Linked DNA regions of Homo sapiens. The protein of the gene in region 4 interacts with the protein of the main gene of each other region in a pairwise test. Each region holds a gene or a part of one and is shown on either strand. Other genes may lie near its edges.

What was found.
Region 1: the proteins of TENT2 (region 4) and RBPMS interact in binary tests that used the Homo sapiens proteins (3 or more experiments, as listed by UniProt).
Region 2: the proteins of TENT2 (region 4) and ANXA2 interact in a two-hybrid assay, tested with the Homo sapiens proteins (one study listed by BioGRID).
Region 3: the proteins of TENT2 (region 4) and DTX2 interact in binary tests that used the Homo sapiens proteins (3 or more experiments, as listed by UniProt).

The regions. Positions count from the first base shown.
Region 1 is NC_000008.11:30,541,525-30,548,549, reverse strand, and holds part of RBPMS (RNA-binding protein with multiple splicing), read right to left. Parts: intron 4,057-7,025; coding exon 3,926-4,056; coding exon of another isoform or gene 3,779-3,925; exon of another isoform or gene 3,387-3,778; coding exon of another isoform or gene 3,375-3,386; exon of another isoform or gene 2,922-3,374; intron 2,890-2,921; exon of another isoform or gene 1,259-2,889; coding exon of another isoform or gene 1,127-1,258; exon of another isoform or gene 1,031-1,126; intron 1-1,030.
Region 2 is NC_000015.10:60,387,986-60,395,010, reverse strand, and holds part of ANXA2 (annexin A2), read left to right. Parts: exon of another isoform or gene 1-634; intron 635-1,570; exon of another isoform or gene 1,571-4,798; intron 4,799-7,025. UniProt on the Homo sapiens protein: Calcium-regulated membrane-binding protein whose affinity for calcium is greatly enhanced by anionic phospholipids. It binds two calcium ions with high affinity. May be involved in heat-stress response.
Region 3 is NC_000007.14:76,499,707-76,506,514, reverse strand, and holds the end of DTX2 (probable E3 ubiquitin-protein ligase DTX2), read right to left. Parts: intron 6,075-6,808; coding exon 5,995-6,074; intron 4,311-5,994; coding exon of another isoform or gene 4,296-4,310; exon of another isoform or gene 4,281-4,295; intron 4,218-4,280; coding exon 4,059-4,217; intron 3,090-4,058; coding exon 2,928-3,089; intron 2,160-2,927; coding exon 2,070-2,159; intron 1,142-2,069; coding exon 914-1,141; 3' UTR 524-913; downstream 1-523. UniProt on the Homo sapiens protein: Regulator of Notch signaling, a signaling pathway involved in cell-cell communications that regulates a broad spectrum of cell-fate determinations.
Region 4 is NC_000005.10:79,608,412-79,615,442, reverse strand, and holds the start of TENT2 (poly(A) RNA polymerase GLD2), read right to left. Parts: upstream 3,003-7,031; 5' UTR 2,368-3,002; intron 2,226-2,367; exon of another isoform or gene 2,196-2,225; intron 1,509-2,195; exon of another isoform or gene 883-1,508; intron 1-882. UniProt on the Homo sapiens protein: Cytoplasmic poly(A) RNA polymerase that adds successive AMP monomers to the 3'-end of specific RNAs, forming a poly(A) tail. In contrast to the canonical nuclear poly(A) RNA polymerase, it only adds poly(A) to selected cytoplasmic mRNAs.

The DNA.
Region 1 (7,025 bases), on a different chromosome or scaffold from region 4:
TTTATGTCCAGGTAAGCTGTACAGCAGCCCTATTAGAAATCCGATAGAACTGCTGTTACTCTGGACAAATGAGGCCTCTGAAAAGGAATTAGGTAACCAGGACTTTCTCTCTCAGTCCTACTTACCTACAGAAGCTTCTGGCCCCACACTGTGACTCTGCCTGAAGTACAGGGTGTATGGTGTGTTTCGAGAATGTGGTAAGGACAGTATACTTTAACGACTTTCTCTCTGCCCATCACAACAAGACTGAAAGCAGAACATGAGCTCAAACCTAAGAGGCGGAAGTGTGTGAATGTGAGGTGACAGAACAGCTGTGTGCTCTCTTCAGTGTATAAGCTTTTTGAAAGCAACAGATGAAAGTTTCCTCTCCTAATTAACACATTTCAAATACCAATGACCTTGAAAGTAAACTGGATGATCACTTTTAAAAATGTTAATGATCTTCTTAGCAATCCGATGTCTGCTGCACAGGGTCGCTCTTTGATCTCTAAACATTAAGTCAGTACTGAGGCTTTCAGTCCTATTACCTTATCCAATAATTTCTAAAAAACGGGATCTGATGGCAAATAAGTATCCTTACTTTAGAGCTGGGAAATCTGAAGGGGTACCAGACCACAGCTGAAGCCGGGGCAGAGCTAGAAATGTGACTCAACTTCTTTTCAATGACACTTTGTCTCCTGGTCTTCCTTCCTGTGGATCCCGGTGGGCAGACTGCACACTGCACCCACACGTTTCACAGGGGCTCCCCTAGCTAGACGCAGCATCCCTGCTGAAGTGAGGTCTCCTGGTGGATGAGACGCTTCCAACATGCAGCTCTTGGTGGCTCTTCTGGGAGCCCAGGGAGAGACAAGCAGCAGCAGTGTGGCCTCGGCTCCAGGACCTGGCCTCTCCAGGAAGCTCGTTCTGAGTCCTTCTATGTAAAATAGACTTGGTGTCACAGGCCCAATTCTCCCAAAACCTCAGTCAGAGAGTAACACCTTTGCTCCAAAATTGCATCACCATGAAAACAAAACGCTGCAGTCTACTTGAGTTCATTTTTGCTCTGATTAAAATTTTTATTGAAATCTCTCAAAGGTCGTCAAGAAATAGTTTTTGTGAAAGGGGGGAAAATAGCTAACAAACAAATTCAACATGGGAGCTCCCTCTGCTGGTCTGCAGTAGGTTGGTATGTTACAAACACATTCCCAGAGACAAATCTAATTTGCTGGAGAAGTGGACAAAAGACAGGTGTGTTGGGCTTTGCCTCAGGAGAGAAACACTAGAAGAAAAAAAAAATCCATGTCTCAAAATAGAGCATAACATTGCTAAGAAAAACAAAATTATTTAAAGCCTCTCCAAAGACATTATAAGATTTCCAAAACAAAGACTGAATTCTCCAATATGGGGAGATGCCCCGTAGAGGCTCCAGTCTGCTCTGCCTCCAGTTACTAAAGATTCTCTTGGGCCCTTTGGGTGAGGGTTAAGTGCTGATTCCCTTTGCTTTGCCTCCAAGTCTCTTCTTACAGGCTTCCCATCTACTTAGAGAAGAAAGATCCAAAGAGTCACTGGAGTGAGGCCTTTCCAAAATTCCATTAAAGAATAAGTCTGTGGTGAGCCAGCACCTCGGAGTGGAAAGAGCCAGGCCTGGGAGGCAGGTGACCTGGGTCTAGTCATGGTAGAGCCCCTTCAGATTGTGGGTAACTCCCTCCATCTTCTCAGGCCTGTTTCCTCATCTGTAAAATGGGTCAGACCAGCTGATCTGTAAAGCCTCTACTAGTTCATTCTGATTCTCATACTGGACAAATACATTTAAATAACCGTATTTGTTCATAGAGTCCATGACTGCACTGGGAATGACTCCAAACAAGAAGTGGCGTTGAAAACTGATACCAGAGGAGAGTCCCACCAAATCTGGGACCGATGTGGCAGAGCTAAGTGGATTCCAGTTTGGGAAAGTCTCAAGATCAAGGAAGAACTCCCAGGGGAGGGTGCCACCATGGGCAGTGCATCCCATTAAGTCAAATGGCTGAGTCCATTTAATCTTGGCACTGTCTCTCCCCATCCTTCCTTACAATGGCATATGCTTTCTAATCTCTTGAGACTCTTTAGGCCCTTCTCTTACCATACCGTATCTCCAGAATTACTTCTGATTTGACCCATTACATGAATGAAGAATGAGCAGATGTCATGGCCAAAAGCCACTATTCCCAGTACTTTCTGGCTGTTGTCAACTCTTGATTATCCAGGGTAAGGGTGAAAGGCTTTGTTGCTGACTAACCAAAGCCATGGCTATTCAGAAGACTATGCAAACCACTGTTTCATGGTATTTATTAACATTTGCCTTAATTGCCACGTGATCTGTACCCGGCAGTCTAGCAAGAGGAGACACCATCCAGAGCAGGGGTGGGAGGTGGCAAGCAAAAGGGGCTCTTAGTTGCCCCATGTCATCCACATATTTATCCGCAGCCTGCTACAAAGATCCTAATGACTCAGCAGAAGACACCCACAGGTTTACATTTTATCCCGACCCCGTTACCTGCCAGTTGTGAGGGTTCCCAAGCACTGACATGGAAAAAGGAAGAAAAAGCAGCAGGGGAAGGAGAAGCCAAAGGCACAGGTAATCCTGGCTCCTTTATTTTCTGTGCCATGTACTCTCAACCACCAACACCACCTACATTTTTTTCTTCACTACTTGTACTACTTTCTCCCTTCTTCTCCCAACATAGAGGGCAATCATTACTGGGGCTCAGGCACCAAGGGCAGGCCAGGAAGCCGGGTCATCAATGCACGCACAACGTGTTGGTAACTCAGAATTAAAAGATGTTCAGCCAACAACAATCTCGACCCCATGACTTTCAAGAACCCTCGCTGGGGGCTGCTTCTAGGTGGTCTTTATCAAGACAGGGAATTCTGTACAACATAAAAGAGTTTTAAGTCAGAAGGAGGTTTTCTGGGAAGCTGTTTATTTCACCCAGCCTTGTAAACAAACACTGAGCAAAACAGGCAAACGAAAACTCTGCCTGTCCAGCCTAATAATTTTTAAAAATTTAAAATTTAAAGGCTGAATTACACATGCAGAAAGACAAATGAAACCTACGTACGTACTTTCTATTTGTTACTGGTCATCAATCTTTGCAGGCCAAAGAATGAGTGGTGATCTCCAGAGGTGAATCTTTACACTGATTACTACCACTTGCACTAAAAGCGAAGCTAAGAGAAATATTTTCTCCAAGGGGAGAGGAAGTGTTAGTATGTAGACAGTAATCTTTGCGGAGAAACAGGAAGTTTGTTTATAAAAATCAGGCTATTTTTAACTAAGAAAGAAAGCTGGTCAGAATAGAGATCTCTACCTTGACCTGTAATTCCATCTTAGACACTATCTTGTATCTCCTTTTCTACAGGGTTTCCTGAAAATGGAGAGAAGGAACCCTTAATCTTTCCTGTAACATATTTAAGAAAGTACAGCCTTCCCCCCTGGAAGCTTTCCCTTTGGTCAGAGATTCTTCTCACCGTACACGAGAGTGGAAAACTCTCAACACACAGAAACACGCACAGACGCACATATCCCCTTCTCCTAGCACACACCTTCCTCTGCAGCCCTTCCACACAAGGCACACACGTATACACTCTGGTGATGCCCTCTAGCTAGCTGGGAGCCAGGTGGATAAACCTGCCCCGGTCTCTCATGTGCGATATGAGGTGAGATCATTAAGGAAGAGAGAGGTGTCATTTGGGGCAAACATCAGGCAGTGGGTGATATCATTGCTGTCAGACGATCCTCGTCAGTCCTGAAGGAGTGTCAGCTTGATTTAGAGGGGATCATTAATCTCTTGAGGGTGGATCTGTTAGCTGGATAGGTGTTAGTTGTATGGTGTGCTCTCGGGAACCAAGTTTGAAAGGACTGGTGGTGAAGTGAGTGAAGTCCTGGCCGATGGGTATCAATTACCTGGGCATGCAGTGAAGCGGGATAGGTGAAAGCAGGAGGAGGTAGAGCAGGCGCTAACTCCGCTGGGTACAGAGGGTACGGGGCCCACACTTCAGGGCTACTGGGGTAAAGTGCAGGCACTGTGAGCTCATCTGCAAGAAAAGAATAAGGCGAGAGTTAGTGGTTACCATACAGCTAGTTTCAAATCAGAAAACAAAACACCCAACAACCCCGAGCCCCAATCACTGTCGGAAGTCAAATTACTCTCATTCTTTTAACAACCTGTTGTTTGTTGGCTTTGGTCCCACAAATGCTAAGTAAGGGAACGAAAAATATAACACAAGAAAAGCAACAAGCATCTGCTGCCTGTCTGGCCTGCTGAGATCTCAGGCCTGGACTCCGCCTTGAACACTCTGATGTCTTTCCGACTGTAGCTGGGGAACCCAAAACAGTGGGAATTTCCTGCACAAAACAGGAAATGCGACCCTCTGAGGAAAAGGGAGAGAAAGAACCAATGAAAGACATCCCATGAGAACCCACTGCAGAGCCTTTGGGAAAACCATGGCTTAACGGCAGGGCCTCAACAGACCAGAACTGGAAGACTTTTCTGTTTATTGGCATAATTACTATTGACAAGTCAGTAATGATCATCAAGCATTTTCCACGTAGCCCTCAGAAGTACAGGGCCAAATACTGTGACCACAGGGCATTTAAGATCTTAAAAATTCAGAGAATTGAAGTGAAAAACCTTGAGAATCCTGATTAAAATTACACTCCACAAAGATGTAAACAGGAACATTTCCAGTTGCTCTTTACAGACTAACTTTTAGGGGAAAAAAGTGAGTCATATTGCCAAGTGCCTGGTCTAAGTGTTCCTCAGGCAGCTCCAATTCCACCCAGGTCAGGCTGCAGTTGGCCAGATTGAAGGGCAAGTGCCTGGGCCTCCCATGTATCAGGAAGCAATCCATTAAAAGTAACAGCAAACACATGAGGGAGCTTCTCAGGAAAGGCAAAAATAACATCAGTCAATAGCAAGGAATCTGGGCCCTGTGAAGCAGCAATCTCAATATGTGCTTTTATCACCTGTCAAAATCTGAAATCAAGTGTGCCAAGGACGCTATCCAGGACTAACACGGGAGTCAGCAAAAGGTGATTTGATAGAAGTCATTAGTAACTCTGCCATTCAGTACTTTCCCTGAGTCTACAGTGCAAGGTCAACAGAGTCACTTTATTCCTTCCTACCATCTAAGGAGCCATTCCAGGCCCAGTGTCTCTGCATCCTTCCCATCCCCCGAAACTCTTCAATACAGAAAGGGGGCTAGCAACAGAAAACTGCTTTGCTCGGTGTGATGTGGGACTGCTCTATGGCGAAACCAGAAAGTAGCAGAACCTGTGTGAGGCTTCCCCACAGCCAGCTTGCATGGCACGAGCTTCTCTCAGGATGGTAGGGAGTCAGGAGCTGACTGCTGATGATACGTTCAGAGGGCAGTTTGTACCCATTTTCAGATATGATGGGACCCCAACAATGTGGTTTAACATACTGTTGCTGGTTGGCCTTCCTGACTCCCTTCTCCTCTCAACAAGGCAGTAAAAACTACCTCCTCAGGACTTGGTGATAGAAAGACAGACTGCCTGTGCATCTAGGTGGGAGAAATAAGCCCCTAAGAGTGGACTGATCATTATTAGTCAGGGTGAAAGCAACAACACCAGAGTCCTTAAAATGATCAGGTCCACAGCATCTACTGTGTTCTAGGGTGTGTAGGTGCCTGTAGCCCAAGGCTTAGGGACCACCCTCAGAGGGGCTGGGAGGGGCTTAATAGATCCCTGTGCTTCCTGTTGTGATGAGACCATGTGATTTCCAGAGTAACTCACGTGGGAGCCCAGCTAGTGGAAACTAACTGCTACCAGAACCAATGCCTTGAATTTTAAACAAACAACCATTCTCAGGAATGCCAAACTATTATTGTTGTTTAGCGACCAGGCTATTTTAAGACATTCTGAGTCTTTTAAATCCTCAGTACACTGTGGCCCATGCTTGTCTGTTCCCACTGTGATAGCAGAAGACCATAAAACTGATACATACAACTGATTCCAAATGGCAGAGCCCTCAGGGGGAACGTGTTTGGCCTGCAGCCTGTCAGTGGTCCTTCCTTATCTTCCTGGCTAACTGGGGTGGGGTGGGTAGAGGTGGTTACCTGATCAGTAGGTCCTTCCTTTAGAAACTTTTAAAAATGAAATGAGTATGTCCTTTAAGATATCTGATCCTAAAGAGATAAGCAACAGAGATAAGCTGGAATCAGATTTCAGTGTCAGCCTGACTGCTGGAATTTATGTTTCCCAGACTTTTCTCTGTTTTTATCCTGAAGCATTACTTCCCATTAGTTCTTTACTGATGCTTAGAGACAATTCACCATTGATATTTGCACAAAACCCAGCCCAGCAGAAAAGAGGATTTGGTCTGAAATCCCCTAAACTCAAAATTGCTGAGTAGTAGTAACGTATTAGTGAGGCAGAAGCCTAAAAGAGATAAAGGTGAACTTACACTTGATAAATCCCTTGATACATCTTATCATCTCCGTCTCCCTTCTCCCATCATGAAGGAATGTGGAATTACCATAAACATCAAAAGATACGTGGTCTGACCAGGTCAGGATCGCACCTGAAGCAGTCCTCACCAACACCTAACTTTCCAGTATGAGCCTGAGCACTCTCCTAACACACACATACACTCCTTTGACGGAAATGGGTATTAAAGCAGAATAAGCTTTTTGCGTTTGTTTGCTTTTTCGTTGCTTGAGAAAATTACAAAAGCTAGAGAGACTGGTTTTCCACAGCACAAGCCCTTCACAAGGACTCCCCACTGAAGGAGCAGGCAAGGCCCTGATGGGTTTCACCTTCCTGAGTCACTGCCCATCCTGCTCAAACTTTACAGGATGGAAGGCTGAAAAAAGAAGACAAAGATTGCTGCCCAAGGCCCACTGGGATGAATTGGAGTTTAGGGAGGGGGTGAGATTCCTCTTGACAAAAGAGGCTCTTGACCACCCAGAGTGAGCCAGGCCCCAGTAAGCAGAAAGAGGGCAGATCAAGAGGCCAGGGCTTTTTTGTCTGGGCCTAATCCATC
Region 2 (7,025 bases), on a different chromosome or scaffold from region 4:
ATGTTCCTCTTTTTTTTCACATGAGAATCCTCTTCACTTGCCCTGGTGCCACACCCTATTCTAGTTGTAGGCCACACCAGAGGAAATTCCAGTCCTTCAAAAAAATTCTTTCCACCCATTCACTGCCTGGTATCTTTTTTCTTCTGCTGTTGCCAGAGGCAGTCCTCATCTACTTTCTCCAGGGACAGGTCAGCAGTAGGGGTCAGGAGATGCCCATATTTGTCCTTCTGGGTGGTTCTACCAGATGACTTCCAAATCTCCCTTCTAGGGTACACCCTGAAGCTGTTTTTTTTTTTCTTTTTTTTTTCTTTTGAGATGGAGCCTGGCTCTGTCACCCAGCCTGGAGTGTAGTCGCACGATCTCTCCTCACTGTAGCCTCCGCCTCCCAGGTTCAAGTGATTCTCCAGCCTCACCCTCCCGAGTAGCTGGGATTACAGGTGCCTACCACCATGCCGGGCTAATCTTTGTATTTTTAGTAGAGACAGGGTTTCATCATGTTGGCCAGGCTGGTCTGGAACTGTTGAGCTCAAGTGATCCGCCTGTCTCGGCTTCCCAAACTGCTGGGATTACAGGCGTGAGCCACTATGCCTGGCCCACCCTGAAGCTTTTAATCCAGCTGAGCTCAACTGGACAGGTCGGTAGCACCCAAGTGGCCTGAGTTTTACCCCAGGTGTGGTGTAGAAATTTCTTATTCTAGGGAGTGACTGTGTTATGGAGCCCTTTGTCCATGTCCTTTGTCTCCCTGCCACACCCAGGCTATACACTCACAGCTCAGAGGAAATCAGAGTCCTAAGGCCACTCGTACATCCTGCCTCTTTGCTGCCTTCTTGCTAGGAGTTGTAGGTTACGTTCCCATGTGGTCCTATGGACAGAGCTAGGGTCCAAGTATCCCTGACAGCACAGAGGTGGGGGGCATGGCTATATGTTGATAAGAGGCTGCCCTGAAGCGACCTGCTGGGCTTTGCTAAGATTTGCAGAAGTTGGTGATTTAAGCCTCCAACTCTGAATGCACGGAACTGGAACTGCATTCGAAATGTCCAGTCTGAGGGAGAGAGAAAATTGAGGAAGGAGAGTGTGTTGGAAAAGAAGAAAAAAAGACTTTCTAATATAGAAAGACCCAGTGTGTGTAAACCATCCCAAGATGAAATTGAATGCCTATCGTGTGCCAGGCACTGTGCTCAGACCTATGAGGAAACAGGAGGGAGTTAAGTTGGAAACCCTGTGGGCGGATAATACGGAAGACAGACTTTACACATGTAACTCTAATGTTGCACAGACACACAAAAAGCTGCAGAAGCACAGGGCAAGGAGGGGTGTGTGAGAAAGGCGGCATTTATGATTTCCTGTATCCTAAAGACTCATTCAGATGTCAGCTAATTAAGATTGAGGTTCCTGGTGGAGGGAACTTAGAAAGTGCTGAGCGTGTTTGGAGAAGAGTTAACAGTCCAGTTAACTCTTCTGTGCAGGATGCGTGTATGCATGTGTGTGTGTATAGAAGATATTTAAGGAAAGGTAGGTAAGTCCACAGTGTGGAAGGTCTTGAATGCTGACATTAGACTTTTTTCTGTAGGCGGCCAGGCCCTGTTGAAAATACAATATGTGGGCCATAAAACACTGAAATTGAGTTGCAGACTTGAAGGCCTGGATTTCCCAACCCTGAAAGTGCTTCATGCCAAGTGACATCATTCTTCCTGCCGGTCTCTTTCCACCCACTCCAACCCCAGATCAGGATACCAGCAGAGAGAGGCTGTGAGAGCATGAAGCTGCAACAAGTCAGTAGGGAGCAAACAAATATTGATTCAGATCAGGCCACAGAAGAGACAAGCTGGAGCAAGTGCTGTGTGTCCCTCCTGCTCAGTTTGATCGAGGTCACTGGGCCGAATTCCAGGAATTCTGGGGAATGAGTTGGCCCTGTGACTCAGTCATTAATCAAGACCATAAAACCAAGGAGAAGAATATCTGCTTTCAAAAAGGTTCTGATAAATAAAGATGCAGTAGGTGGGTGGAGGATGGAGTACAGTGGGAACCCCTCTCCTCACCCAGTACATTTTTTTTTTTTTTTTTTTTTAGTTTAAAATTCCAGTGTGGCCTGTAGACTGTGTGTCCAGGACTGTGTACAGTAAGAGCTTTGATGGAGAACCCAACTCTCCACACTCCCACCTCTACCCATTTTTGCTTTAAAATCTTCATTTGAATCACCAGTCCCTGATTGATTCACCATGGTTGCTAAGAATCTGTTTTGCGGTAACGCATCAACACTCCACGTTTAAACTGTGAAGTGGGTGTGTCCACAAAACTTCTGGATTAGACTCAGATTTGCCTGTGCAGACCAGCCCTGTTGCAGTATGTTTTTGTTTGTTCAGATTAACATTTGGGCTTTTTGGAACTGGTTCTTAATTTAGTTCAGTAGAATGTGTTTTTACTATTTGAAGTGTTGACTTTTAAGTTTTCTTTTGTTTGTTTGTTTTAACCTTTTTGTAAACTTTTACTCTTCTTTTTGGGAGTAAAGTTAAAACTGCTTCACTTGTCCTTTTTTTGTTTGTAACTGCACTTTCGTAGTGAAGCAATAGAATACAATAAAATCTATAGAGTTTTTTTTTTTTTAATAAGGACAAACCCTTAAATTATTAGGTTGGTACAAAAGTTAATTGTGGTTTTTGCCATTAAAAGTAATGGCAGTTATTTTTGCACCAACCTAAATAATATAGTCCTTATGTTAAATGTAAATGACTTGTTTCTCAATAACTGCACTGATTTCATTAATGATCAGCCTTGCACTGTGAGCTTTTTTAGCCAGGCATTCACAGTCTCATTTATCAGCCTTTTCAAGGCAGAAGAAACTGTTCTTTTCATTAGGGTGGGGCCAAGTGACCTGTTTTCCTACCCAAGTAGTGAATGATTTTAAACCAGTTTGAGGTGGGTATGGCTCTTATCAGTGAGTCTCCCTGTACCTCTAGTTTATTTCCTTAAACAGAAAAACGTTCTCTGATAAAGGGTCATTTTAATGATGTTGTCTAGTGACCCTGCCCTCCCTGGGAATGGAAGGCACGGCACTGATGTGTATGTAGATGTACTCATCAACAGATTGAATTTGCTGATTTTTTTTTTTTTTTCTTGTTGGAGAGTTGAAACCAGTCGGCAAGCTGGGTGAGGTTGAAGTGTTGGAAAGAGTGGTGCAAACTGCCATTTTCATGTTCTTTAGAGAAGTCTGCCAGAAAAGGAGTAGTGGTTCTGTTTTTAATGGATTTATGAGTTTTATACGGTGATGAGGAGTGAGTAGAGGTGAAATTGTCTCATACAGCATGTAGGCTTTATTTTTTATTTTCATTCAAAACAGTAAGTACACTGAAGTCAGAGTAGTTGTTTTCAGTAAGAAAATTCTGCCTCCAGAGCAAATGTTTTGGTGAATAGATAAATATGAGTACTGAGTCCCAATCATTTTGGCTCATAGGTTCCCCAGTATTTCCATAGGCAAGCTTAACTTTGCACCATTCAGAGACTTATATTTTAGGTTCCCCACAGGGCACCCCACTGGACGTGGCTCATTTTCCAGCCTGTAGTCTTGTTCTTCTGCCACCCTGGGGCATTATTCCTCTTCCCCTCTCCCCAGGCCTTCCCCCTTGCTTCTTGGCTGGAACCTCCCATGGTGATTCACCCTTCTCAGCCTAGGCAGACAGCACCTCCCTGTTAAGCCCTTAACTAATCCCGCTCTGATGGCTGTGATCTTTCTCTCTGTGTCTTAATCACTTGGAATAAAGAACCATTGTGGTGAGGTTGAAAGGGCATTGGCCCAGGAGTCTGGGGATCTGGGTTTTGGCCCTGCCTCAGCTACTTAATTCACTGGGTGACCCTGGACTAGACTCTCAGTGTGTCACAGAGGCACGAAGGGAAGAGAGCTCAAAGGTCCTGCAGGGTGGAAGTCTGCATTTCACAGTTTTATAAGTGTCTTTTGTATCCTTTAATATAGTGCAGGCTCAGCGTATGCTTGGTATGGGTTCGTTGATTAATTCCTTGCGTATTACCAGTGTTTGTAACCTACAGTAGCACTGCCAAGACTTCCTTTTCCTGCTTTCAAGGATAGCAGCACACTGACACATTCTCATTAGTCAAATATGCTATATTAAACTAATGTTTTAACAAACAGTGAATCGCAAAGCCAACTGTTCCTTCCAGCGAATAATAGATCATATGCAAAATGACTTTGCATTGCTAGGGGATTTGATGGAGTGAAGAAGCAAGCACTGTATTTTATTTCTTTTTATTTTGTTTTGTTTTTTGGACATAACCTCAAGATTTTATTGTCCTCATAATAAAACAAAAGATGATGCTTAGAACTGGATCACTTGGCCCTTTCTTTTGTTATCTCCTCCCAGTTGAAAATGTTTGCATGTCTTAACAGCCAGCATTTTCTTAGATCTGCAGATGGGGTCAGCACACTCAAGCCTCAGCACAACCTCCTTTGTAATTTTACCCGTTTTCCAGAAAATTGCCTTAGTCTACCCACCATAGTCACTCTGCTTCTTGTCATAACGCCGCTTTCCCTGGGCATACAGGGAGTCCTGGTATTGTGCCGTTTTGTGGGGTTGGTGCTTGCCACACTTCTTACAGAAAGCCCAGTGGGTTTTAGGAATGTTCACCATGTTTTCCGGAATGCTATCGGCATGGGAGGAAAGTGGCCATATTTTATTTCTAGGGTGAAAATGTTTGCCATTAAACTCACATGAAGTAGGAAATATTTATATGGATACAAAAGGCACCTGCATGGGATAATGTCAAATTTCATAGATACTGCTTTGTGGTAAGTGTGACTTTGTGGTTATTGTGATGTTTGTGTTTTGTTTTTTTTTTCTGCAAAATGGTTATACATAGTATAAATGTTATGCAAAATAGCAACTCATTGTTTTCAAGTTGATTTAGCACCTGCATTATGTAAAGATAATCTGAAATCTGTAGGGGGACTGGGACTATGTAGGGAAGATGAGGTCAACCATATACTTTCTACTGCTTTGAATTGTACCTATGCATTCACCATTTGAATACTTGGCACGTGTAGGGCACTTAAAACATTCTGCCGAATGGATGAATGAAGTGGTATCAAAAAGTGCCCTGGCAGTGAAAGGCAAGATAGAGTTCTGTAGAGTAGGGGTCGTGGTGACCCTGTTGGAGCAGATACTGAAGTAGTGGTGAGTGCGGAGAGGCAAGTCACATTTTGGCCCTAGTCAACTGTAGCTGAGGAGTAAACAGAGGGAACTGTTTACTGTTTACAGGATTCTGATGCTCATCTTTGAAGGCTGGGCTCTGCTGGAGGACTGATTTTGAATGATGTCAAATGATTTTGACAAGATTAAATGGGGAGATTTAGTTGGTGGTGGCATGCAGGACTGATTTGATGAAAGAGCAGCACAGTTATGAATGGTGAAACCGAAAGGAAGATTTGTGGGGCTTTTAACAGTCTCCTCAAGGTGTTGTGGCTGTGGGAGAAGAATTAACATGAATGGAGAGTGTAAAGAAGCCTATCAGATTGTCTTTGATCTGCACAGTACTGGGGAGTCCCATGTGGGACACGGGTAGGCAGCAGTCTACAAAGCTCAGAGCTGGAAAGACAACTTGAAAGAACAACACAATGAAAAGTTACCGTGCCTCTAGTTGAGATTTTCTAAACATCGGAACCAATGTGAGGTGTCTGATTTCATAAACAAGTGGAATTTAATCTATACTCTCTAAGTGGAAACAACTCTGTTTGCAACTCTGACTTGCTAGTTCCCTGGTTTTGCTTTTGTTTTACGTTTGGCATTTTTTATTTCTTGCCTGTTTATGGTAGAGACTAGAATTCTGCACAGCAGATGACAACAGTTTATCCCCTGCTGCAGACCTGGTCCAGTTCTGACTGAGTCCAGGGGTGATAGTTAAGGCCAGGGCTTGGGTGGTTTGATGTCCATCCTAGGAGTTTCACCTCTGCTTCGGTAATTCTCGGGCTGAGGGATACTGATGAGACCCTCTAGAATGTTTCTTGGTCCATGTTGAAGTTAGAGATTTCTTGCTCTGTCAAGAAGACTGTCAGCCTGGGCAAGGTAACGCGACATTATCTCTACTGGAAAAAAAAAAGCCAGGTGTAGTGGCACACGCCTGTAGTCCCAGCTACTTGGGAGGCTGAGGCAGGAGGATCTCTTGAGTCCTGGAGATCAAGGCTGCAGTGAGCTATGATTGCACCACTGCACTCCAGCCTGGGTAACAGAGAGAGAAACCCTGTCTCAGACAAAAAAAAAAAAAAAAAAGGTCTAGGTGTGGTGGCTAACCCCTGTAATCTCAGTGCTTTGGTAGGCTAAGGCGGAGGGATTGCTTGAGCCCAGGAATTCAAGACCAGCCTGGGCAACACAGTGGGACCTTGTCTCTACTGAAACATTAAAAAAAAAAGGAAAAAAAATGGAAAAAGGAAAAAGGAAATTAAATGGAAATAAGATATATTCAACATATCATAGTTGTAATTGTAATATATGATCAATATATAAATTATTGGGCTGGACACAGTGGTTTATGCCCGTAATCTCAGTGCTTGGATCACTTGAGGCTAGGAGTTCGAGACCAGCCTGGGCAACATAGCAAGACCCTGCCTTTACCAAGAAAGAAATTATAAATGAGAAATTTTATATAATTTTTTCATACTATGTCTTCAAAATTCAGAATGTCCTTTACACTTATAGCACATCTCAGTTTGAACTGACCACATTTCAGATGCTTTGTAGCCACATGAGGCTGGTGGCTACTGTATTGGACGGTTCTGCTACAGAGCAAGACTATTCTAAATTGTCTTTTTTTTTTTTTGAGACGGAGTTTTGCTCTTGTTGCCCAGGCTGGAGTGCAGTGGTGTGATCTTGGCTCACTGCTACCTCTGCCTTCTGGTTTCAAGCTATTCTCCTGTCTCAGCCTCCCGAGTAGTTGGGATTACAGGCGCCCGCCCCCACGCCCAGCTAATTTTTGTATTTTTAGTAGAGATGGGGTTTCACCATGTTGGCCAGGCTGGTCTC
Region 3 (6,808 bases), on a different chromosome or scaffold from region 4:
AAAGTGCTAGGATTAGAGGCGTGAGCCACTGCACCTGGCCTAATTTTTTTTTTAGAGATGAGGTCTTGCAATTTTGCTCAGGCTGGTCTCAAATGTCTGGACTACAGTGAGCCTCCTGTCTCGACCTTCTGAGCAGCTGGGATAACAGGCATGCGTCACCATGCCTGGTTCAAGTCATTGCACCTTTGAACCTGTTTCCACATCAGTAAAACAGAGACAGCAGCTCCAATCCTAAGTGAATGGCATTTTGTGAACCACAACCCCAGGGCCACAAAGGTGACAGCTGGTGCTCTGGGGTGACAGCCTCTGGCATGGCAGGGAGATCAGTGTAGGGCATGTGGAGGCCGCACAGCCCAGTACCGTGGGCTCCTCCATGCCTGGCTGTGGCCTGTTCTTCAGTTATCAAATGGGAGCCGATGAGCCCATGGAACCCCCTCTTGCTCTGATGCAGGAAGTGGGGGGGGGCACACACACACACAAGTGCGCACACACGCATGCATGCACACACTCAGGACCTGCTGGCTTTGGCTATAGAGCATTTATTGCAAACAAAATTGAGGTAAAAGAAGCTGACCCAGAACCCACGCCCGTCCAGGCTGGGGAAGTCTCTACTCGCCCCACACCAGGCCCCGAGCACCGCGGGCCCGAAGCAGCCCCCAGAGGACAGACGGGCCCTGCGCACTGAGGTAGCTGCATCCTAAGCCCCCATGAGTACAACTGCCCAGGGCTGCCCAATTCCCAGAGGGGAGGAGGAGAGAGAGGCAGGCAGGGGGAGCCCCGGCTTCAGGTGGGGCACACCCCACACCCTCAACAAACCTCCCAGCCTCTCGGGCTGGGCACTTCCTGCCTGGCCACCCAGCCAGCCATGGGGCAGCGGGGTGGCCACCAGAGGCGGGCGTGCTGGGGTGCGAGGTCACTGCTGCTCCAGGCAGTCCTCGGTCACCCCCTGGGCAGCCAGCTCAGCCAGCACGTTCTGCAGGTAGTTGGGGTCGGGATAGCCGTGGCCCGTAATGTTGCGGTCCATCTCTGTCTTGTGGTGGATCTCGTTCCATACCACGGTGTCCGTCTCACCCGTGGTGCTGGACGTGCCCACTGTGAAGATGAGCCGCCTCTTCCAGGCCACCTTCAGGAGCTCTAGGACCTGCCCGGGGAGGAGGAGGGGGAAGAGGAAGGAGGGGACGGAGAGTGAGAGGGGCTCAGTGAGCAGGCACGGGTTGGCACCATGTTCTTCCCATCCCAGCCCCTCCCAGGTGACTCATCCACTCCCTGGCACTCACCCCATCTGCAGGGACCCCAAAACTGCCCACTGGATAGTACATTAGGATCCCACATGAACCTGGGCTCCAGCCCACCCCGCCTCAGTGCCTGGCACTGCCATCCGTTTGGTCCTGATGCCCAGGCACCATGCTCGAGTCCTCCCTGCTTCCACAGCCGTTGCTGGACGAGCGCCCGCCCACCCACCCTCCCTGGTGGAATCCAGGCCTCCCTGCCCTCTCCCTGCCCTCTCCCCGCCTCCAGCTCCGCCACCTCAAGCCCATTCTCACACGGCCAGAGCTTTTCCAAAGCTCCATCAGCAGCTCCACCTCCGTGGCTTCGCTGGGCGCTCAGAACCAGCTCTACCCCTGGTGCTGGCCTGGGGGGCACCCTGTCTTCACACCCACACCACGGGCTCCCACTATCCTGCCTTCCTGGAAGGCTCGTCCCCAACCTTCTCTGCAGCCACAAAGTCCCTATTCATGTCTCAGTGCAGACACCACTGCTCCAGCCTTCCGTGGTCACCTGGTCTAACACAGCCCCCGGTCCCTGCCTGTCACACTCTGACTCTCAGGAGCTCCTGACCCCACCCGGCAGGGTGCTGGAAGGTGATGGCCTCTCCTCCTCCCTCGAGGCTATGTGAGGTCCAGGCTGCCCTCCCTGTACCTACAGCAGGTCCCCAGAAAAGAGCAGCAGACACTCGGCCCGGCCTCAGCCTCTGTCCTCCGCTGCAGAAGCAGAGTCCAGTGTGGCGCCTGGCCTCCTGCCGCCTGGTCAGGGCCCCGTCCACCCCCCGGGCGCATGGTGGCACTCACCTTGCGGCCCTGGGCGTTGTCTGGAAGGTAGCACTGGCGGGGAAACCCTCTGGCAGTGAACGGCTTTCCGGGATTGGGGTGCTCAGGGCCCTGCGGGAGGAACAGACACCAGGATAGGGTGCTCCGAGAGCCCGCACAGGGACAGGCCCCTGCACAGCTCCAGCTCCTCCCCCGCTCCGAGATGCCAACCCCGAATGTTCCTGAATTTCCCTCTGAGCTGTGGAGAAGTGGAGGGAAACCAGGGGAAAGGCTCATGGTTCAACAAGACAAAAAGATGCCTCCATCCACCACAGGTGGACCTTGGCTGGCAGCCAGTGCCCGCTGCCTGCTGCCCCGTTATCTTCCCACCCTGCCCCAGGCCCTACGATCCACCTTGGCTCAAGACAGGAGACCGAAAGGGCTAGGGCCCGTCTGAGTCTCCTCTGGGACTCTGGGGCCTTGTGCCTGGGCTCCTGACACCCACACGCCTGGCCCTGCCACTCCCAACCCAAGGTTCCTCGACGCACACCCTGCTGTGGCCCCGCTTCTCCAGCCCCTCCGCAGGGTTCCTCCCACTGAACTGCCTGCCCTTCTGCCCAGAACAAGTCCAGCTAAGATGGCTCCTCCTCTAGGAAGGCTTCCTTGGTTCAGGAAAGAGTGGAGGGCCAGCCTTTTGCTGCCACAGCCCTAAGAGCTTACCCTAAGCCCCGGCACTGCCTCCCCATTCCCGGCCCTCCATGGCTCTGGCCTTAGGGGACCTGGGGGCCTGAGCTTGGCCACATGGGCATCCTCAGCCTTGATCCAGGGGCAGACTGCTGGGATGTGGGCGGGGTGGGAAGAGGAGTGGCCAGGAGTGGGGGACTCAAGAAGGCCCCTCACCTGGATACCATGGGGAATGCTGTAAACTATGAGGATGGTCCCGCAGTCCTCGTGGCCGGGGAGCGACATCTGGAACCGTAATACCTCCATCTTTCCCTGGGGCTGGGTCCCCGTCTTCTCTCCATAGATGGTTTTGCAGGAGGGACACTGCAGACTTCCATCCTGACAGAGGCAGACGCAACCCACTGAGCTGGCAGTCTGAGAACACCCAAGACCGTCACCTCCACCGTCAGATGGTAAAGGGCCCCGGGAATGGGCTGGCCACCATCCCAGGGAGTTGCTGGCAGCCTCCTGCCCGGAAACTGGCTTCCAACAGCTTCCCTGGAAAGCTTTGTTTTGCACCAGCAACTCATGCCATTTTCGTTAAGGGACATGCTATCAGGAGACAGGTGGCGAGTGGGAAAACTCGGATCCTGAGCAGAAATCTCCACGGGTGAATCGCATTTGCAGTCGGATAGACAGCCTTGCAGCGTCTGATCTGCGGAGCTGGGCCCTGGCTGCCCAGGATGGCAGACACTAGGGAAGGCCGAGCCAGGCTCCGATGCGCCACATGACTCGGTTCTCTAAGCCTCTAAACTCTGCCCATCCCGCCTGAAGGCCGATGCAGGGAGAGCAGCTGGGGGTCAGTCTGGGCGCGGCTCTTCATGTGTAGGCTGCTGTGGGGCCCAGGATCAGCCCTGCCTCAAGGCCTGGCTCCCACCTCCCAGTGGGGTGACCCTGGGCACAGCCCCTGCTCTGAGCCTCTCCCTCATGAGCACTGTGCTGACTGCACAGGGATGCTGTAAGGAAGAAGGGAGACAGTGTCTGCGGTGCTTACAAGTGGCCGAGGGGGAGGCGGTGCCCTGGGGCTCAGAGAAGCCCAGAATCTTCTCAGGCCTGGCTGGAGGGGTGGAGGGAACCAGCCGCACTGGTCCTCCTTTCTAAAGTGTGGGGCAGACCTAGAAGAGTAGGGCAGGCCTAGGAGAGCCGGCCAGGCCTTTAGAAAGGTCTTCAAGCTGGCCCCACGCCCAGCACCATCTTTTGCAGAGGCCCATTCCTACAGCCACCCCCGGAACCCTCCCGCCCCTGCAGGGGACAGCTCAGGACTGTGGGGGCGGGCCACCCGCCTCCGCCCTGGGCCAGTGGGGGCACCTTATTGCCGTTGCAGTACATGGCCAGGAGGCACAGCAGGTGGAAGGCATGGCTGCACTTGGTGAGGTGGCCCACAGCTAGGGACCCGATTGCCTTGCTGTCAGTCACATCGCTGTATCCAGACGCTGTGGACAGCTTCTCCATGCAGATGATGCAGTCCTGGAGGAGACCAAACATGGGTCATGCTCGCCAACAGTGGGCTGGGCTGACGTGGGCCAGTCTTGGAAAAAGAGGCTTTCATGTGCTGAAATGCTGGAAGTGCAGTCAAAGTCAATTCCGAGGCCAGGCGCAGTGGCTCAGGCCTGTAATCCCAGCACTCTAGGAGGCCGATCACTTGAGGTCAGGAATTTGAGGCCAGCCTGGCCAACACGGGAAAACCCCATCTCTACTAAGAATACAAAAATTAGCTGGGCGTGTTGGCAGGTGCCTATAATCCCAGCTACTCGGGAGGCTGAGGCAAGAGAATCGCTTGAACTCAGGGGGCAGAGGTTGCAGAGCTGAGATTGTGCCACTGCACTCCAGCCTGGGTGACAGAGCGAGACTCCGTCTCAGAAAAAAAAAAAAAAAAGTCCATTCCACAGGCTGGAGACACAGGTGAGTCACCGGGACCTGTGCCTCTGAAGGGCTTACCAGCAGCACAGGCCCGACATGACAGCAGAAGCCACCAAATGGGGAGGACGGACAGGGCAGGATCCTGGGGGAGGCCCTCGGCGTGGGGTCTTACAAGGGAGACAGGAATTGCCAGATGGACAAGCACAGAGTGGGCACCCGGAAGAGGGAGGAGGACGTTCTGAACGAGGAGCCAGCTCATGGGCACTAAAGCTGGCAGGGGGTGGGCTGGGAGCAGGAGATGAGACAGGATCAGGGAGAGGCGCGCCCTCGGGGGTCTGGCTGCCACACTCAGGGGCTTGGGGCTGTGTGTGAGTTGGGGGTCCTGCTGGCGGTTCCAGGCAGGGAGTGCTCCCATGATCCAAGCTGCGTGCTGGCTGTGCAGACGGCAGCTTGGAGAGGAGGAGCCTGGGGTGAAACGGCCCAGTCACACCAGATGGACACCAGGGCCGAGACAGAGCTGAGCGCTGGGCAGGCGGGAATGTGGCAAGGGCTTGTGGAAGGGGTGGGACACATGAGGAGGACGTTCAGGCTCCTTTCCAAACCTTTACTTACCAGATTTTTCTCATGGACTCAACAGACTGGAGAAAGAGACAAGTGAAGAGTCCCTGGGTACTGGGGCTCCTGGCCTTCCACCCGCCCCCAAGTATCTGAAGATCTCTGGGTACTGGTACTCCCGGCCGTTCACCCACCCCCTCCCCCAACAGTATCTCCAGGGCTCCCAGCTAAAATCAGGGGAAAGTGGTGCTGCAGCCCCCAAAACGTGGCTCAGTAGAGGTTCAGGTTCTATGGAAGCGCAACAGGAGTCTGATTGGTCCTGTTCATTACAGGAGGTCAGGAGGACAGGGCTGCAGTGAGCTGTGATCACGCCACTGCACTGAGCCTGGGCGACAGTGTGCACCCGTCTTTAAGAATAAAAAAATTATAAGAACCTTGACCAGCTCTCCCAATAGCCGGGGGGCAGGACAGCCACCTGGACGAGGCCACCTCACTTCTACACCAGCATCCGCAAGGTGGAGAGTGGGGCAGGCTGGCCCATCCCTTGTCTCTGGAATTCCTGCTCCCAGGATGGCCATCAGGCTATGGAGAGGCCAGGGCCGGGAGAGGAGGGGCTTTGCTCAGGACCACAGCTCCTTAAGTGCAAAGCTCAGACCATAACGATGTGGGTCTCGGGAGGCTGGGAGATGAAACCAAAGGGGCTGGAGCAAGGCCCTGGCACCCAGAGGCACCTGGGAAGCACCCTTCAAGCAAGATGGGGCGGATGTCCTTTCCATGTGGAGTTGTTTCCAAACAGAAACAAAGGCAGCCAAGGTCCCAAGACACAAACCTCATCTGGGGGCACTTTCAGCTCTTCCGTGTAGTTTTTTATGACCTGCTCTGGCTCTGGCTCTGGCTTCGGGGTCGCTCCTAGAAGAGAGAAGTACATAAGCAGCGTCCTGAGGAGCACAGGCTGGAGAGGAGGCCAGAGGGCGAGGAAGGGAAGGAAGAGGTCTAAGCTGCCAGGAGGAAATGCGAGAGGGGCCCAGACAGGGAGGCCAGTGTGCGGGACGGGAGAGCTCAGCGCCAGGCACAGAGCCCCGAGCTCCGTCGGGCAAAGCCTTCCCCAGTCCCACCGTCCGGGGACCCGGCTCAGCCCCAGGAGCCATGGAGGATGCAGAAGAGCAGAAACAGCAGCACAGTCTCCTGGGAGCCGCATCCCCGCGCACATTGAGTGAGGAACCGACCCCGGCGCTTCTGAGGCTGCGCGGAAGAGTCAGACAGCCGCTTCGGGCACAAACTACTCCAGGGGGCGTTGTGGCACCACGATTTGATTCAACTTGCATTACCCTGGCATGAACATCACAGGGACAAGGGAGTCTGGGGTCCAGCATGTACAGGCAGCTGCACACACGCCGACCGCCACACAGACACTGTCCCGGGAAACGCCTGCCACTGACTGGGAAGGTCTGTCACATGCAGACTAGCTCCTAAGTCCAGCGACTCTGGGGAGGGGCCAAGACGTGGCAGGAGCCCACCCTGACGGCCTCACTCGCTGTCTGTGCACACGTGCACGAAGCTGGAGGGAGAAGGGCTGCATCTCCATAAACACCGAACCCCACATCCAGTAAAGCCTCTCCTACGGACAAGAAGCTCCTGAGCTG
Region 4 (7,031 bases):
AATTAAAATCTTGTACTTTCAGGTTTATTTAAATCGGTTCATAGCAAAAAGCCTAGATACTTTTGTTTATACCTATAAAAAATATGCTGTTTTTCCTCTATAACTGAATAAGGTCCATGTATATTAAGATTTGAAGATGCAAAATGACATCAAGAGCCCAGGCCTCACCTTGTTTTCATCTCTTACACAGCCAAATCCAAACTAAGTCTAAAGATGACTTGTGGCTCAGAACTACTCTACCAAGTTAATGACCAAATTATCCCCAGCTTAAAAACTTAGATTGAGTCCACAGCCAGATGTTTAGTCTAGGGCAGAAATCTAGTTTAGCATATTCCAAATTCCCAGAAATATATCAAGCTCTGGAGCCCCTGCAAAACAAAGGATCTGTCAGCCTCTCCTCAGTATGAATTTTGGCCCTCAAGTCAGGCTCTTTTTAAAGAAGGTAGGCTTCAAGTAGAGGAAAATCATTCCGACGCATTCGTTCTATGCTCACCAATATAGGTATTCTGAAAGACATCTAGAGTTGAGGAAGTAAATGAAACGCCTATGAATTTCTATGCCTTTTTCTAATACATTTCACATTGATTTTGATGAAAATAAAAATGACATCAAAACAATTATCATAAACAACATAATCATTTTTTTAAAGAGACTGTAGAGTTTCACAAAATACAGTAAAACTATTACTGTAACAGAAATAAGGGGACCTCCACAAAATTTTAAATCATTTTCTTCATACTCTGAATGAAAGGTTTCTTAAGTAGAGATTAGCTATATAAAACGTTACTCCACATTAACTATGGTCTTCTACCATCTCCTATGTGACAAATTTTATGATAGATACATAAAATCCAGATATTGGCAATATCCAATTTTCCTTACCTTAAAAGTTATCAGTTCCACAATCTGTACTTGACCATGAAAGAGTATACTGGTACTTTCTTTACGGAGAAAACCTTAAAGACGGTTTCCTAAGGTGGACCCAATGGGAAATTACACAGGTTTACATGAGACAAGGTAGTAAAAGAGTAGATTAATTCGGCCGGGCACAGTGGCTCACGCCTGTAATCCCAGCACTTTGGGAGGCCGAGGCGGATGGATCACCTGAGGTCAGGAGTTGGAGACCAGCCTGGCCAACATGGTGAAACCCTGCCTCTACTAAAAATACAAAAATTAGCCAAGCATAGTGGCACGTGCCTGTAATCCCAGCTACTCGGCAGGCTGAGGCAGGAGATCGCTTGAACCCAGGAGGCAGAGGCTGCAGTGAGCCAAGATAGTGCCATTGCACTGTAGCCTGGGTGACAAGATCAAGATTCCGTCTTGCAAAAAAAAAAAAAAAAAAAAAAAAAAAGATTAATTCCTAGTAATTTCTAGTTATAAAGTATTTGGTCCTGGAATTTGCAACCTGGAATTTCTGTCCTCAACTTGACCTCTCCTCCAACAAATTAGAGAACACTCAAGGTTATATATAATTCCTTCATCAGGATTCTTTAGAAAGCAGAATATACCTAGAATGAAAACCAGAAATTTACTGGCTAAACCAAGATACTGTCCATTTTGTCCAAATACCTTTGATATCTCAAACCCACTTTTCTCCACAATACGAAAAATCCAGTTCCTAAATCCTGCCAACCCACTGTGAAAACTACTTCCAGGTTTTGAACAGGATATTCCTTTTGGTTAAGAATTAAATTACACCCAAGTGTTCAAAAAAATAATCTAGTCACATGGCTCCAAATGGGCATTTCTTAAACAACTCATAAACGGCCTATTTCACATGGAACCTGTTACAGGACATTTCCAGAACAGACATAATTAGGGCTATTCACACCAACAAAGTAACGTCACTATTACTGGCTATTAATCAGTATAAATTAATAGCCTTATGGCTGTTAATCAGTACGTGTTAGAAGCCTGGTGGTACTGAACCATACAATATGAAGATATTTACAAAAGTTACTATGTTACCTGTAATATAAAAACACAGATTTAGTAATCAGTTACAATCTCTTTCTTCACAAAATCATACACTGCACATGTGTTATTTAGCTTGTGTTTTACAGTTTCCCTTTGTTTCTTCTCTGTTCACCCTAATGAAAAATATCTGCTACTTTAAACAAAGAGTTGAAAGAGATAAGACAAGTAATTTAGAGAATCCATAAGTTTTGAGACATATAAGCCTTTCGTGTTCTCACCTTGAGAGACGAAGAGCTTTTCTACAAAGGCTGAACAAGAAAAGAAACGCACACAACAGTCTTAACCTGTGCATTTTCCTATAAAGTGAAAAGCTGAAGCAATTTCATGCCATTTAATTAAGGCTTAAAAGATAAATGCCTTTTAAATTTTTTAATTAATCCAGCTACGTACCTTAGTTCTTCACCACCCTTTGAAACACCATGCAAGGGTCCCAAGACTATCTTCCTCTTTTGGTCCTGGAGTGGTGGACGAGGCAGTACGCGAGGAATAGAAAACGAGTAAGCAAAGTAAGCGGTCCTAAGATTCTTCAAAATGTACAGCAGCCCAGATGCCGCCCATAAATTTGGAATAACCAAGAGATACTGCTGGAACCTCCCACGCAAAACAAAACGCTACCGTTTCGGAAAAGTTTCCCGTGCCCCGCCGCCGACCTGGGCCTACACTGCTGCGTTCCTCTCCGAAACCCCCTAAACTCACAGGTGTCCTCCGGGAAGGGCTAAGCAGGGCCTACCCGCACTGCCCGTTCAGAAGTTCTAAGGCCCGAGCTGGGCGTACTTGGTCGTAGCTTTCTCCCGAACCAAAGGAGGTAGTGGTGGCCCGTGGGACAGCTAGGCCCAGCTCCGGCTCCGGCTGAGATCTAACCCCCCTCACGGCTGCCAGGGGAGGAGCAACACAAGAAAAGGTAGGGGCTGCAAGGATATAGAAGGTTGGGGGCGGTGGCAAAAAGCGGAAGAGCAAAAAGTCGCCGAAAAAGCGGCGTAGAAAACCCTGTCAAAGACACCCGGAAGACCGACGTGACCCCGGATGAGAATAGGCAGCGGGGAGCGAAAGGTCACACTTCCGGTGGCCGCCTCCCTCCCACCCCCCAACCCCCCCCACCCCCCAACCCCCCCCACCCCCCCCACCCCGCCTATGAGCGCTTTGCTTGAATGCGCAGGCGCAAGACAGCCGGATTTGAAAGGAGTTTCTTAACTGCTGCCAGCACAAGTTGGGAAAGGGTTAGGACTGCACTAAGAGGGGTGGAGCAGGCAGTCGCCGGAGGGCCACTTCTGGGCCCCTTGCCTGAACTCACGTGCAGCCGTTCTAGCTGTAACAGACGTTTTCTGTGGGTCCTTCGTGTGTTGGCCGAGTGACTTGTCCCCAGAGAAGCCTTTCTTTAACCAGTGTTCCCCTAATCTTCTCCCCCGGAGCAACATTAAACTTTATCTGTTCTTTTGCCCCTCCAGTAACCTGAGAGCTTCTTTGGAAGGAAAATGCTTTCTTTGGCCGGACGCGGTGGCTCACCCCTGTAATCCTAGCACTTTGGGAGGCTGAGGCGGGCGGATCACGAGGTCAGGAGTTCGAGACCAGCCTGGCCAACATGGTGAAACCCCATCTTTACTAAAAATACAAAAATTAGCCGAGCTTGGTGGCGTGCGCCTGTAACCCCGCTACTCAAGAGGCTGAGGCTGGCGAATCGCTTGAACCCGGGAGGCGGAGGTTGCAGTGAGCCGAGATCGTGCCACAGCACTCCAGCCTGGGCGACAGAGCAAGACTTTGTCTCAAAAAAAAAAAAAAAAAAAAATGCTTTCTTTCTCTCTAAAGCCTGGACTTAGCGCCTTGCCCATAGTAATAGCTGGTATTCACTAATTCAACAAATATTTATTGATATCGCCTCTTGAGTGAGCTTTAATAATTTGTAGAAATGTCTAAATTGTTTAATAATGCAAATCTGTTAGCTGTATTCCTTTATTGTCCACTTAATGTCTATAAAATCTGACCCCTCAGGTTCTGAAATTGGTAATTTGTGTGTCATCTTTTTTTCTGATCGATCTGGTGAGGGGCTTCTCGGTTTACGGATCTCAAATCTCAAAGCCCGTTTTTGCTTTCTTGGATTTTCTCTACTGGTTTTCTGTTTTCTATTTTATTGATTTCTGCTCTTATGTTTATTGTTTCCTTTACTCTGCTATTTTTTAATTTTTAAATTTCTTGTTTTGTTTCTCTAGTTTCTTAACTCAGAAACTGATGACCATTAATTTTAGATGTCTCTTGTTTGTACAGGCATTTGGTGTGATAAGTGTCCCTCTATACTGTTTTAGCTACATTCCACATATTTTGATATATTGTATTTTCATTTTCCTTCATTTCAAAATACTTTGTAATTTCCCTATTGCTTTCTTTTTTTGACCATGGGTTTTTTGTAAGTGTTGGTCTGCAAATGTGGAGGAGTTTTCCAGGTAGCTGCCTGTTACTGATTTCTGATTTAATCCCATTGTGATCAGAGAAGGTACTTCGTACACTATTAATAATTTTAAACTTATTGACACTTGTTCTGTGGCCCAGAGTATATAGTCTGTCTTGGTAAATACTCACTGTGCATTTGAAATGAATGTGTTTTTTGCAGTTGTTGCATGGAGTGTTCTATAAATGTCAATCATGTCAAGTTGGTTGATATTAGTGTTCAAATCTATATCCTTTCTGATTTACTGTCTACTTATTCTACTAATTATTGAGAGTATTGAAATTTCTGACTATTACTGGTTTTTTTCAATTGTAGTTCTATCAATTTCTGCTTCATGTACTTTGCAGCTCAGCTATTAGTTGCATAAACATAGTTATTCTCTTATTTGTATGAATTTATCCTTTATGAAAGTTTCATTATTATGAAATTATCCACTTTACAAATGACCCTCCTCTTTGCTGATAATGTTCTTTGCTCTGAAGTATATTTTGTCTGATAGTATTACAGCTACTTAGGCTTTCTTTTGTAGGGTGTTAACATGGTATATATAAGGAAAACATAATTCCAATTCTAGATAAAGTCCTCCAAAAATTGAAGAGGAGGGAATACTTCCCAGCTCATTCTGTGGGGCCAGCATTACACTAATACCCAAACTCTAGATATTAAACAAGCAAACTATGGACCAATATCTCTCATAAACATAATATGCACAATTCTAGTCACTTTTATTTCACAGTATATAAAAAAGATAATACATTATATCCAAACAGGTGCTTATCCTAGGAATGCAAGGTTGAATTAGCATTGTATTGACCATAAAAGAGTATACTGGTACTTGCTTTACGGAGAAAACTTTAAAGACTGTTTCCTAAGGTGGACCCAATGGGAAATTACACAGGTTTACATGAGACAAGGCAGTAAAAAGTAGATTATATAAAAAAGATATATAAATATATAAATACATAAAAATATATAAAAAAGATAATACATTATAACCAAACAGGGGCTTATCCTAGGAATGCAAGGTTGAATTAGCATTGGTAAATCAAGCAATGTAATTTACCATATTAACAAACTAAAAAAGAAAAACCATTTGATAATCTCAATACATGCAGCAAATGCATTGGACAAAATCCAGTATCCATTCCTAAGATTACAAGGAAACTTCCTCAACTTGATAGAGAGTGTCTATAAAAAGCATCACACTTAATGGTGAAGAACAGTGCTTTCAACTTAAGATCAGGAACAAGGCAAGGATTTCTGCTCTGACAACTTATGTTCAATATTGTACTGGGGATTCTAGCCTGTGCAATAAGGCAAGGAAAAAAAAAAGGCATTCAAATTAGCAAAGAAGGAAGTAAAACTGGTTTTATTTGTTTTATTTATTGAAAACTCTGGCACAAAATCTACAAAAAACTATCAGATCAAATAAATGACCAAGACTACAGGTCGTAAAATCAATACACAAATGTCAATGGCATTTGTAGTACACCAGCAATAAACAATCTGAAATTGAAATTTAAAATACCATCTACAACAGCATCAAAAATTTGAGGCGGGCATGGTGGCATGCACCTGTAGTCCCAGCTACTTGAGAGGATGAGGCAGAGAATCACTTGAGCCCAGGAGTATGATGGCATTATGATAGGTCACTGCAGCCCCAGAAAGAGAATGGAAAGACAAGCCAAAAACTGAAGCAGCTATTTGCAAATCACGTATCTGATAAGAATGTGTGTGTGTGGTTGTTTTTTTTTTTTTTTTTTTTTTTGAGATAGGGTCTTGCTGTGTCTCAAAAGAGCTGGAGTGTAGTGGCATGCTCACGACTCACTGCTACCTCGACTTCCCAGGCTCAAGTGATCCTCCCACCTCAACTTCCTTAGTGCTGGGACTACAGGTGTGCACCACCATGCCTGATTAATTATTGTATTTGTTATAGAGGATGGAGTTTCCCCATGTTGCCCAGGCTGGTCTCGAACTCCTTGACTCAAGCAATCCACCTGCCTCAGACTCTCTAAGTGCCGGAATTACAAGTGTGAGCCATCATGCCAGGCCCTGGTAAATAATTTATATCCAGGCTGGGCAAGATGGCTCACGCCTGTAATCTCAGCACTTTGGGAGGCCGAGGTGGGTGGATCACAAGGTCAGTAGTTCGAGACCAGCCTGGCCAATATGGTGAAACCCCGACTCTACTAAAAATACAAAAATTAGCCTGGCATGGTGGCAGGCGCCTGTAGTCCCAGCTACTTGGGAGGCTGAAGCAGGAGAATCACTTGAACCCGGGAGGCAGAGGTTGCAGTGAGCCGAGATCACGCCATTGCACTCCAGCCTGGGTGACAGGGCAAGACTCTGTCCACAAAAAAAAAAAAAAAAAAAAAAAAAAAAAAATTTATATCCAGAGTGTCTATTTTTTGAACTCTCATACCTCAATAGTAACCCAAAAAAATGGGCAAAAGGTTTGAAGAGACATTTCATCAAAGAAGCCATATATGGATGACAAATAAAGGCATGAAAAGATATGCAACATCATTAGTCATTAGAAGAAATACAGATTAAGAGAAAAATATAAATTAAGACCTCAACAACATACCCTACCTATTTGATGGTAAATTCCAAA